2 separate regions of the Homo sapiens genome follow, and region 2 is linked to region 1. The links come from fine-mapping of genetic effects on gene expression. A gene starts in region 1. The other region holds a variant in brackets. All regions are shown on one strand. Distances are between the middles of the regions. Region 1 holds the start of TMEM236 (transmembrane protein 236). Region 2 has its middle 32 kb from the start of TMEM236.

The links.
Region 2: its variant is fine-mapped to the expression of TMEM236 in regulatory T cells (Schmiedel 2018, PIP 0.91).

Annotation. Positions count from the first base shown.
Region 1 is chr10:17,749,786-17,755,017 of GRCh38, reverse strand. It overlaps TMEM236 (transmembrane protein 236), which reads right to left and starts at 2,817. Exons shown (of 4, transcript NM_001098844.3): 1 at 2,466-2,817. The coding sequence starts at 2,722.
Region 2 is chr10:17,717,912-17,723,143 of GRCh38, reverse strand. No RefSeq gene overlaps it. Among named protein-coding and RNA genes, the nearest start is that of TMEM236, 32 kb to the left of the region's middle. The variant A/C (reference allele first, on the strand shown) is at 2,698.

The DNA of each region.
Region 1 (5,232 bases):
GCAGTGAGCTGAGATCGTGCCACTGCACTCCAGCCTGGACAATAAGAGTGAAACTCTGTCTCAAATAAATAAATAAATAAATAAATAAATAAAACATCAGTATGAAAGAAAAATTAGCTTATATTAACTTATTAAAGAAAAGAGAGAAGTCCAAGATGAGTAAGAATCAGATCTGAAGATCTAAAAGGAAAAATACATTAATATCAGAGACTATTTGTTCTCAATACCCTTATGTGGATCAGTATACCCATTAGCTAAACTGCTAGTTAAATTAACATTAAATCCTGATTTATTTAAAATATCTCTGTATTGTTATTGAAGTACTTTCCTCCCCTACAAGGGTAACAGAATTTACCAACACAGTAAATTATTTATTTTTAAAGTCTAAGTAGGCCAGCTTTGGCAGCTCACGCCTGTAATCTCAGCACTTTGGGAGGCCAAGACGGGTGGATTGTTTGAGCCCAGGAGTTTGGAACCAGCCTGAGCAATGTGGCAAAACCTCATCTTTATAAAAAACACAAAAAAAGTAGCCGGGTGTGGTGGTGTGCACCTGTAGTCCCAGCTACTCAGGAGGTCGAGGTAGGAGGATCACCTGAGCCCCCTGGGGAGGTTGAGGCTGCTGTGAGCAATGATCACGCCACTGCACTCCAACCTGGGCAACAGAGCCACACCCAGTCTCAAAATAAAAAATAAGTAAATAAAAAGTCTAAAGGAACCAGTTGTTTTAAAAGTCGTAGTTAATGGTCAAAGTATGACGTAAGCCTGCAAAATGCAATGTAAATAATTAAAAATAGACATTACTTTCAGTTTTACGCAAAATTAAAATTCTACATTACCATCTTCTGATTATGAGTTGTGTAAGCTCACTCCGATAAGTTTATGTAATTTAGTGTCCAGGAGAATTAAGTCCAACATTTACTACTTAGAATAGCATGAACTGGCACAAACTCCAGTCTTACTAACCCATCTCATGTGTTATTATCACTCAGTATAAATGACTGTAGAAAAATTAAGGAAGATACCATAATATCCATACATTCACAGAAGCAGTAATTGTAGCCTCCCATTAATGTCACATTCTATCCTTACGCTCTGCTCACATCCTTACCCACAGTATGTTAGAACATATCTTTCAGGAATACTTATACACTGTTAGTGGGAGTCTAAATTAGTTTAACCATTGTGGAAGACAGTGTGGTGATTCCTCAAAGACCTAAAGACAGAAATACCATTCGACTCAGCAATTTCAATACTGGGTATATACCCAAAGGAATATAAATCATTCTATTATACAGACACATGCACCCGTATGTTCGTTGCAGTACTATTCACAATGGCAAAGACAGGAAACCAACCTAAATGCCCATCAGTGATAGAATGGATAAAGAAAATGTGGCATATATACTTTATCGAATGCTATGCAATCATGAAAAAGAACAAGATCATGTCCTTTGCAGGGACATGGATGGAGCTGGAGGCCATTACTTTTAGCAAACTAACGCAGGAACAGAAAACCAAATCCCACATGTTCTCATTTATAAGTGGGAGCTAAATGATGAGAACACATGCACACACAGAGGGGAACAACACACACCGGGGCCTTCCAGAGGGTGAACGGTGGGAGGGAGAGGATCAGGAAAAACAACTAATAGGTACTAGGCTTAATACCTGGGTGATGAAATAATCTGTACGACAAATCCCCATGACACAAGTTAACCTATGTAACAAACCTGCACTTAAAAGTTAAAAGTCAAACAACAGACAAACAAACAAATATATCTTTGAAAGCATCACGGGGATTCCCTGCTAAGGAATTCTTTTACAGGCTGGGCGTGTTGGCTCACTCCTGTAATCCTAGCACTTTGGGAGGCCAAGATGGGTGGATCATTTGAGGTCAGGAGCTCGGGACCAGCCTGGCTAACATGAAAACCCCGTCTCTACTAAAAGTACAAAACTTAGCTGGGCATGGTGGTGCATGCCGGTGAAATAATCTGTACAACAAACCCCTAATGACACAAGTTAACTTATGTAACAAACCTGCGCTTTTACCCCTGAACTTTAAAGTTAAAACAAACAACAAACAAAAAAACAAACAAACAAACGTATCTTTGACAGCATCATGGGGATTCCCTACTAAAGAATTCTTCTACAGGCCGGGCATTGTGGCTTCTGCCTGTAATCCTAGTACTTTGGGAGGCTGAGGCAGGCAGATCACTTGAGGTCAGGAGTTCAAGACTAGCCTGGCCAACATGGCAAAAACCCGTCTCTACTAAAAATGCAAAAATAAGCCAGGTGTGGTGGTGTGCGACTGTAATCCCAGCTACTCAGGAGGCTGAGGCAGGAGAATCACTTGAACCCAGGAGGCGGACGTTGCAGTGAGCCAAGACTGCCCTACTGCACTCCAGCCTGGGTGACAGAGCGAGACTCCAAATCAAAAAGAAAAAAAAGAAAATTCTTTTACTTACCATCCTTTAATTTTTCTGTAAATATAACGTTTCTTGTGCAGGATAACTTTTACAGGAACCCAGATCAGTAGAGTCACTAACGCAACATAGGCAATAGAACAGGAGATGATCAGCCAGTAGTGTGTGTTGTCAGATCTAGCCCTTGTTCCTTGGTAGGCGGTGGCAAACTGTTCTGTGATCACGAGTGTGGGGATGGAGAAAGCGGCAAACTCTAGGAGCTCAAAAACCACGAACTTAATGAGCCTTCCAGAAGCCATCCTGAGGAAAAGCAAGCTGCCAAGAACCTGGGACTCCCTCTTTGACTGTGGGCAGCATATGGACCCACAGACACTGAACTGGGATCAAGTTCCTTGTCCTCGAATCGCTAACCAGTGACTTTTTATTCTTTTATTGACCCTCATATGGTTCAATGATCTCCTAACTTAACAACCGTGGTCTCTTAAAGGAACAGGACCATTGTGGAAGTGATCACTCAACATATTTGCACATCCATTATTAGAAGTCAAATGAACTTTAGAGCATGCCCGGGAGCATGGGTAAAAGCAGGGTTTTAAAAAGGTGTTTATTGCTAACGTTAGCACAAAACCATTTGTGTGATAGTCAATTCTTGTTAAGTAAAACTGCTGGAATAATATAATTTTAGAGTTAAAGGGGAATAGATAGAATCCAACCCTCTATTTTTACATAAAAGCAAATTCAGGCAAAGGGAGATACTCAAACCTAAGTCTTCATCTTGGAAAACCATCCCTCCCTTTCAAGTGCTTGAAAAGGGAGTTTGTATTCACTTTATCAACTCTCTAACCAGGATTCTCCCTAATACTTAAGATATTTATTCATTATTGTGCATTAGTTGCCATATAACACAAATTAATGTTATTTTTGTTTTGCTGCACAGGAAACTGAAATGGTGACATTAGAAGCCTGTTATCAAGATTTACACATTAACAGCTATCTGTGACTAGCTCAAATGCATATCAAATGTTTAAAGAATGACAATTGTCTCCATGAATATCCTTCCTTTGAAAAACATACTTGAGACCGGGCATGGTGGCTCACACCTGTAATCCCAGCACTTTGGGAGGCTGAAGCGGGCAGATCACCTGAGGTCAGGAGTTCGAGACCAGCCTGGCCAACATGGTGAAACCTCGTCTCTACTAAAAAATACAAAAATTAAGGCCAGGCACGGTGGCCCACACCCGTAATCCCAGCACTTTGGGAGGCTGAAGCAGGCAGATCACCTGAGGTCAGGAGTTCAAGATCAGCCTGACCAACATGGTGAAACCCCATCTGCACAAAAAACGAAAAAAATACAAAATTAGACGGGTGTGGTGGTGCATGCCTGTAATCCCAGCTACTTGGGAGGCTGAGGCACGAGAATCGCTTGAATCTGGGAGGTGCGGAGGTTGCAGTGAACCGAGATTGCACCATTACAATCTAGCCTGGGCAACAAGAGCGAAACTCCGTCTCAAAAAAAAAAAAAAAAAGCAAAAATTAGAGGGGCGTGGTGGCACATGCCTGTAATCCAGCTACTTGGGAGGCTAAGGCAGAAGAATCACTTCAACCAAGGAGGCTGAGGTTGCAGTGAGCTGAGATCATGCCACTGCACTCCAGCCTAGGCAACAGAGCAAGACACCTTCTCAAAAAAAAAAAAAAAAAAAAGAAAAGAAAAACATACTAGAGCACTTACAATGAGCATTTTAGTATGTGTTAGGGTGTGAAGATGAATGAATGACAGCAGTTCCTGTTCTGAAAGTGCTTGAGGTCCAATGGAGGAGATAAAATGAGGAACCACAACAAAAAACCAAGGCCAGAAGAGTGTAAATGAAGTGCTACAGGGACACAGGTGAACTTCACCTTGCTTCACCTTGGGGTTGTGGGAAGAGGATGGGCACATAAGCACGGTCAGGATGGACGGGGGCACTGTGGTGTCGGTGACATTTCAGACACAGCCAAGGAGGCTGCAGGGGTTAGTGAAAATCTGGTGTGGCACAGCAGGAAACAGGAGGAGGCAATGTTAGAAAAATAGTTTGGGGGCCAGGTGGGGTGGCTCATACCTGTAACCCCAGCACTTTAGGAGGTCAAGGTGGGTTGATAGCTTGAGGAGGCCAGGAGTTTGAGACCAGCCTGGGCAACATGGTGAAACCTCTTCTTTACAAAAAATACAAAAATTAGCCAGGCACGGTGTCGCTTGCCTGTGGTCTCAGTTACTCCAGAGGCTGAGGTGGGAGGATTGCTTGAGCCTGGGAGGTTGAGGCTGCAGTGATCTGTGATCGTGCCACAGCACTCCAGCCTGAGCAACAGAGCGAGACCCTATCTCAAAACAACAACAACAAAATAGGTTGAGGTAAGAATGGCGTGTCCCATTAAGGATTTGGTGGGGGTGTGTAGCCGGCAGTGAAAAAGCAAGGTTTTCTGAACACAGCAGTCCTTTGGTCATCTGGAAAGGAGGTTCAATGCTGATGTGGAGGAAGGACAGAGCAGTGTTACCCTGGAGGCAGGAGTACAGCTGGGAACCAGAGAGGAGCCTGGGCTAGAGGTAAGAGCCCCCTGGCCAACACAAATGGAGCGGGAGTGATGAGGGAGGCGACGCAGCAGCAGACATTGAGCCCCGTCCCTTCTGTGGCTTTCCCTGTACCTGCTGTCACACTGATGCAGACCTGTATTTCTCTAGGCTTCTCTCTCTCAAGGCCCCCGGCAGAAGGGGCCCTGCGCTGCTGGACTTCCAGGGTGCATCGGAGGCTCCTGGTGTGGCCCTGAGGATTGATGC
Region 2 (5,232 bases), 32 kb after region 1:
ATTCTGGATATTTGCCCTTTGTCAGATGTGTAGGTTGTGAAAATTTTCTCCCATTTTGTAGGTTGCCTGGTCACTCTGATGGTAGTTTCTTTTGCTGTGCAGAAGCTCTTTAGTTGAATTAGATCCCATTTGTCAATTTTGGCTTTTGTTGCCATTGCTTTTGGCTGGAGAGGCAGCCAAGATGGCCAAATACGAACAGCTCTGGTCTACAGCTCCCAGCGTGAGCGACGCAGAAGATGGGTGATTTCTGCATTTCCATCTGAGGTACTGGGTTCATCTCACTAGGGAGTGCCAGACAGTGGGCGCAGGACAGTGGGTGCAGCGCACCGAGCGCGAGCTGAAGCAGGGCGAGGCATTGCCTCACTCAGGAAGTGCAAGGGGTCAGGGAGTTCCCTTTCCTAGTCAAAGAAAGGGGTGACAGACGGCACCTGGAAAATCGGGTCACTCCCACCCTAATACTGCGCTTTCCTGACGGGCTTAAAAAACGGCACACCAGGAGATTATATCCCGCACGTGGCTCAGAGGGTCCAACACCCACAGAGTCTCGTTGACTGCTAGCACAGCAGTCTGAGATCAAACTGCAAGGCAGCAGCAAGGCTGGGGGAGGGGCGCCTGCCATTGCCCGGGCTTGCTTAGGTAAACAAAGCAGGCGGGAAACTCGAACCGGGTGGAGACCACCACAGCTCAAAGAGGCCTGCCTGCCTCCGTAGGCTCCACCTCTGGGGGCAGGGCACAGACAAACAAAAAGACAGCAGTAACCTCTGCAGACTTAAATGTCCCTGTCTGACAGCTTTGAAGAGAGCAGTGGTTCTCCCAGCACGCAGCTGGAGATCTGAGAACAGGCAGACTGCCTCCTCAAGTGGGTCCCTGACCCCTGACCCCTGACCCCCGAGCAGCCTAACTGGGAGGCACCCCCCCAGTAGGGGCAGACTGACAACTCACACGGCCGGGTACTCCTCTGAGACAAAACTTCCAGAGGAACGATCAGACAGCAGCATTCGCGGTTCATGAAAATCTGCTCTTCTGCAGCCACCGCTGCTGATACACAGGGAAACAGGGTCTGGAGTGGACCTCTAGCAAACTCCAACAGACCTGCGCTGAGGGTCCTCTCTGTTAGAAGGAAAACTAACAAACAGAAAGGACATCCACACCAAAAACCCATCTGTACATCACCATCATCAAAGACCAAAAGTAGATAAAACCACAAAGATGGCGAAAAAACAGAGCAGAAAAACTGGAAACTCTAAAAAGCAGAGCACCTCTCCTCCTCCAAAGGAACGCAGTTCCTCACCAGCAACGGAACAAAGCTGGATAGAGAATGACTTTGACGAGGTGAGAGAAGAAGGCTTCAGACGATCAAACTACTCCGAGCTACAGGAGGAAATTCAAACCAAAGGCAAAGAAGTTAAAAACTATGAAAAAAATTCAGATGAATGTATAACTAGAATAACCAATACAGAGGAGTGCTTAAAGGAGCTGATGGAGCTGAAAGCCAAGGCTCGAGAACTACGTGAAGAATGCAGAAGCCTCAGGAGCCGATGCGATCAACTGGAAGAAAGGGTATCAGTGATGGAAGATGAAATGAATGAAATGAAGCGAGAAGGGAAGTTTAGAGAAAAAAGAATAAAAAGAAATGAACAAAGCCTCCAAGAAATATGGGACTATGTGAAAAGACCAAATCTACGTCTGATTGGTGTACCTGAAAGTGACGGGGAGAATGGAACCAAGTTGGAAAACACTCTGCAGGATATTATCCAGGAGAACTTCCCCAATCTAGCAAGGCAGGCCAACATTCAGATTCAGGAAATACAGAGAATGCCACAAAGATACTCCTCGAGAAGAGCAACTCCAAGACACATAATTGTCAGATTCACCAGAGTTGAAATGAAGGAAAAAACGTTAAGGGCAGCCAGAGACAAAGGTCGGGTTACCCACAAAGGGGAAGCCCATCAGACTAACAGCAGCTCTCTCAGCAGAAACTCTACAAGCCAGAAGAGAGTGGGGGCCAATATTCAACATTCTTAAAGAAAAGAATTTTCAACCCAGAATTTCATATCCAGCCAAACTAAGCTTCATAAGTGAAGGAGAAATAAAATACTGTACAGACAAGCAAATGCTGGGAGATTTTGTCACCACCAGGCCTGCCCTAAAAGAGCTCCTGAAGGAAGCGCTAAACATGGAAAGGAAAAACCGGTACCAGCCGCTGCAAAATCATGCCAAAATGTAAAGACCATCGAGGCTAGGAAGAAACTGCATCAACTAACGAGCAAAATAACCAGCTAACATCATAATGACATGATCAAATTCACACATAACAATATTAACTTTAAATGTACATGGACTAAATGCTCCAATTAAAAGACACAGACTGGCAAATTGGATAAAGAGTCAAGACCCATCAGTGTGCTGTATTCAGGAAACCCATCTCACGTGCAGAGACACACATAGGCTCAAAATAAAAGGATGGAGGAAGATCTACCAAGCAAATGGAAAACAAAAAAAGGCAGGGGTTGCAATCCTAGTCTCTGATAAAACAGACTTTCAACCAACAAAGATCAAAAGAGACAAAGAAGGCCATTACATAATGGTAAAGGGATCAATTCAACAAGAAGAGCTAACTATCCTAAATATATATGCACCCAATACAGGAGCACCCAGATTCATAAAGCAAGTCCTGAGTGACCTACAAAGAGACTT[A/C]GACTCCCACACATTAATAATGGGAGACTTTAACACCCCACTGTCAACATTAGACAGATCAACGAGACAGAAAGTTAACAAGGATAACCAGGAATTGAACTCAGCTCTGCACCAAGCGGACCTAATAGACATCTACAGAACCCTCCACCCCAAATCAACAGAATATACATTTTTTTCAGCACCACACCAAACCTATTCCAAAATTGACCACATACTTGGAAGTAAAGCTCTCCTCGCCAAATGTAAAAGAACAGAAATTATAACAAACTGTCTCTCAGACCACGGTGCAATCAAACTAGAACTCAGGATTAAGAAACTCACTCAAAACCGCTCAACTACATAGAAACTGAACAACCTGCTCCTGAATGACTACTGGGTACATAACGAAATGAAGGCAGAAATAAAGATGTTCTTTGGAACCAACGAGAACAAAGACACAACGTACCAGAATCTCTGGGACACATTCAAACCAGTGTGTAGAGGGAAATTGATAGCACTAAAAGCCCACAAGAGAAAGCAGGAAAGATCCAAAATTGACACCCTAACATCACAATTAAAAGAACTAGAAAAGCAAGAGCAAACACATTCAAAAGCTAGCAGAAGGCAAGAAATAACTAAAATCAGAGGAGAACTCAAGGAAATAGAGACACAAAAAACCCTTCAAAAAATTAATGAATCTAGGAGCTGGTTTTTTGAATGGATCAACCAAATTGATAGACCACTAGCAAGACTAATAAAGAAGGAAAGAGAGAAGAATCAAATAGATGCAATAAAAAATGATAAAGGGGATATCACCACCAATCCCACAGAAATACAAACTACCATCAGAGAATACTACAAACACCTCTACGCAAATAAACTAGAAAATCTAGAAGAAATGGATAAATTCCTCAACACATACACCCTCCCAAGACTAAACCAGGAAGAAGTTGAATCTCTGAATAAACCAGTAACAGGCTCTGAAATTCTGGCAATAATCAATAGCTTACCAACCAAAAAGAGTCCAGGACCAGATGGATTCACAGCCGAATTCTACCCGAGGTACAAGGAGAAACTGGTACCATTCCTTCTGAAACTACTCCAATCAATAGAAAAAGAGGAAATCCTCCCTAACTCATTTTATGAGGCCAGCATCATCCTGATACCAAAGACTGGCAGAGACACAACCAAAAAAAGAGAATTTTAGACCAATATCCTTGATGAACATTAATGCAAAAATCCTCAATAAAATACTGGCAAACCGAATCCGGCAGCACATCAAAAAGCTTATCCACCATGATCAAGTGGGCTTCATCCCTGGGATGCAAGGCTGGTTCAATATATGCAAATCAATAAATGTAATCCAGCATATAAACAGAACCAAAGACAAAAACCACATGATTATCTCAATAGATGCAGAAAAGGCCTTTGACAAAATTCAACAACCCTTCATGCTAAAAACTCTCAATAAATTAGGTATCGATGGGAAGTATCTCAAAATAATAAGAGCTATCTATGACAAACCCACAGCTAATATCATACTGAATGGGCAAAAACTGGAAGCATTCCCTTTGAAAACAGGCACAAGACAGGGATGCCCTCTCTCATCACTCCTATTCAACATAGTGTTGGAAGTTCTGGCCAGAGCAATTAGGCAGGAGAAGGAAATAAAGGGTATTCAATTAGGAAAAGAAGAAGTCAAATTGTCCCTGTTTGCAGATGGCATGATTGTATATCTAGAAAACCCCATTGTCTCAGCCCAAAATCTCCTTAAGCTGATAAGCAACTTCAGCAAAGTCTCAGGATACAAAATCAGTGTACAAAAATTACAAGCATTCTTATACACCAATAACAGACAAACGGAGAGCCAAATCATGAGTGAACTCCCATTCACAATTGCTTCAAAGAGAATAAAATACCTAGGAATCCAACTTACAAGGGATGTGAAGGACCTCTTCAAGGAGAACTACAAACCACTGCTCAAGGAAATAAAAGAGGATACAAAGAAATGGAAGAACATTCCAAGCTCATGGGTAGGAAGAATCAATATCGTGAAAATGGCCATACTGCCCAAGGTAATTTATAGATTCAATGCCATCCCCATCAAGCTACCAATGACTTTCTTCACAGAATTGGAAAAAACTACTTTAAAGTTTATATGGAACCAAAAAAGAGCCCGCATCGCCAAGTCAATACTAAGCCAAAAGAACAAAGCTGGAGGCATCACGCTACCTGACTTCAAACTATACTACAAGGCTACAGTAACCAAAGCAGCATGGTACTGGTACCAAAACAGAGATACAGATCAATGGAACAGAACAGAGCCCCCAGAAATAATGTCGCATATCTACAACTATCTGATCTTTGACAAACCTGAGAAAAACAAGCAATGGGGAAAGGATTCCCTATTTAATAAATGGTGCCGGGAAAACTGGCTAGCCATATGTAGAAAGCTGAAACTGGATCCCTTCCTTATACCTTATACAAAAATTAATTCAAGATGGATTAAAGACTTAAACGTTAGACCTAAAACCATAAGAACCTTAGAAGAAAACC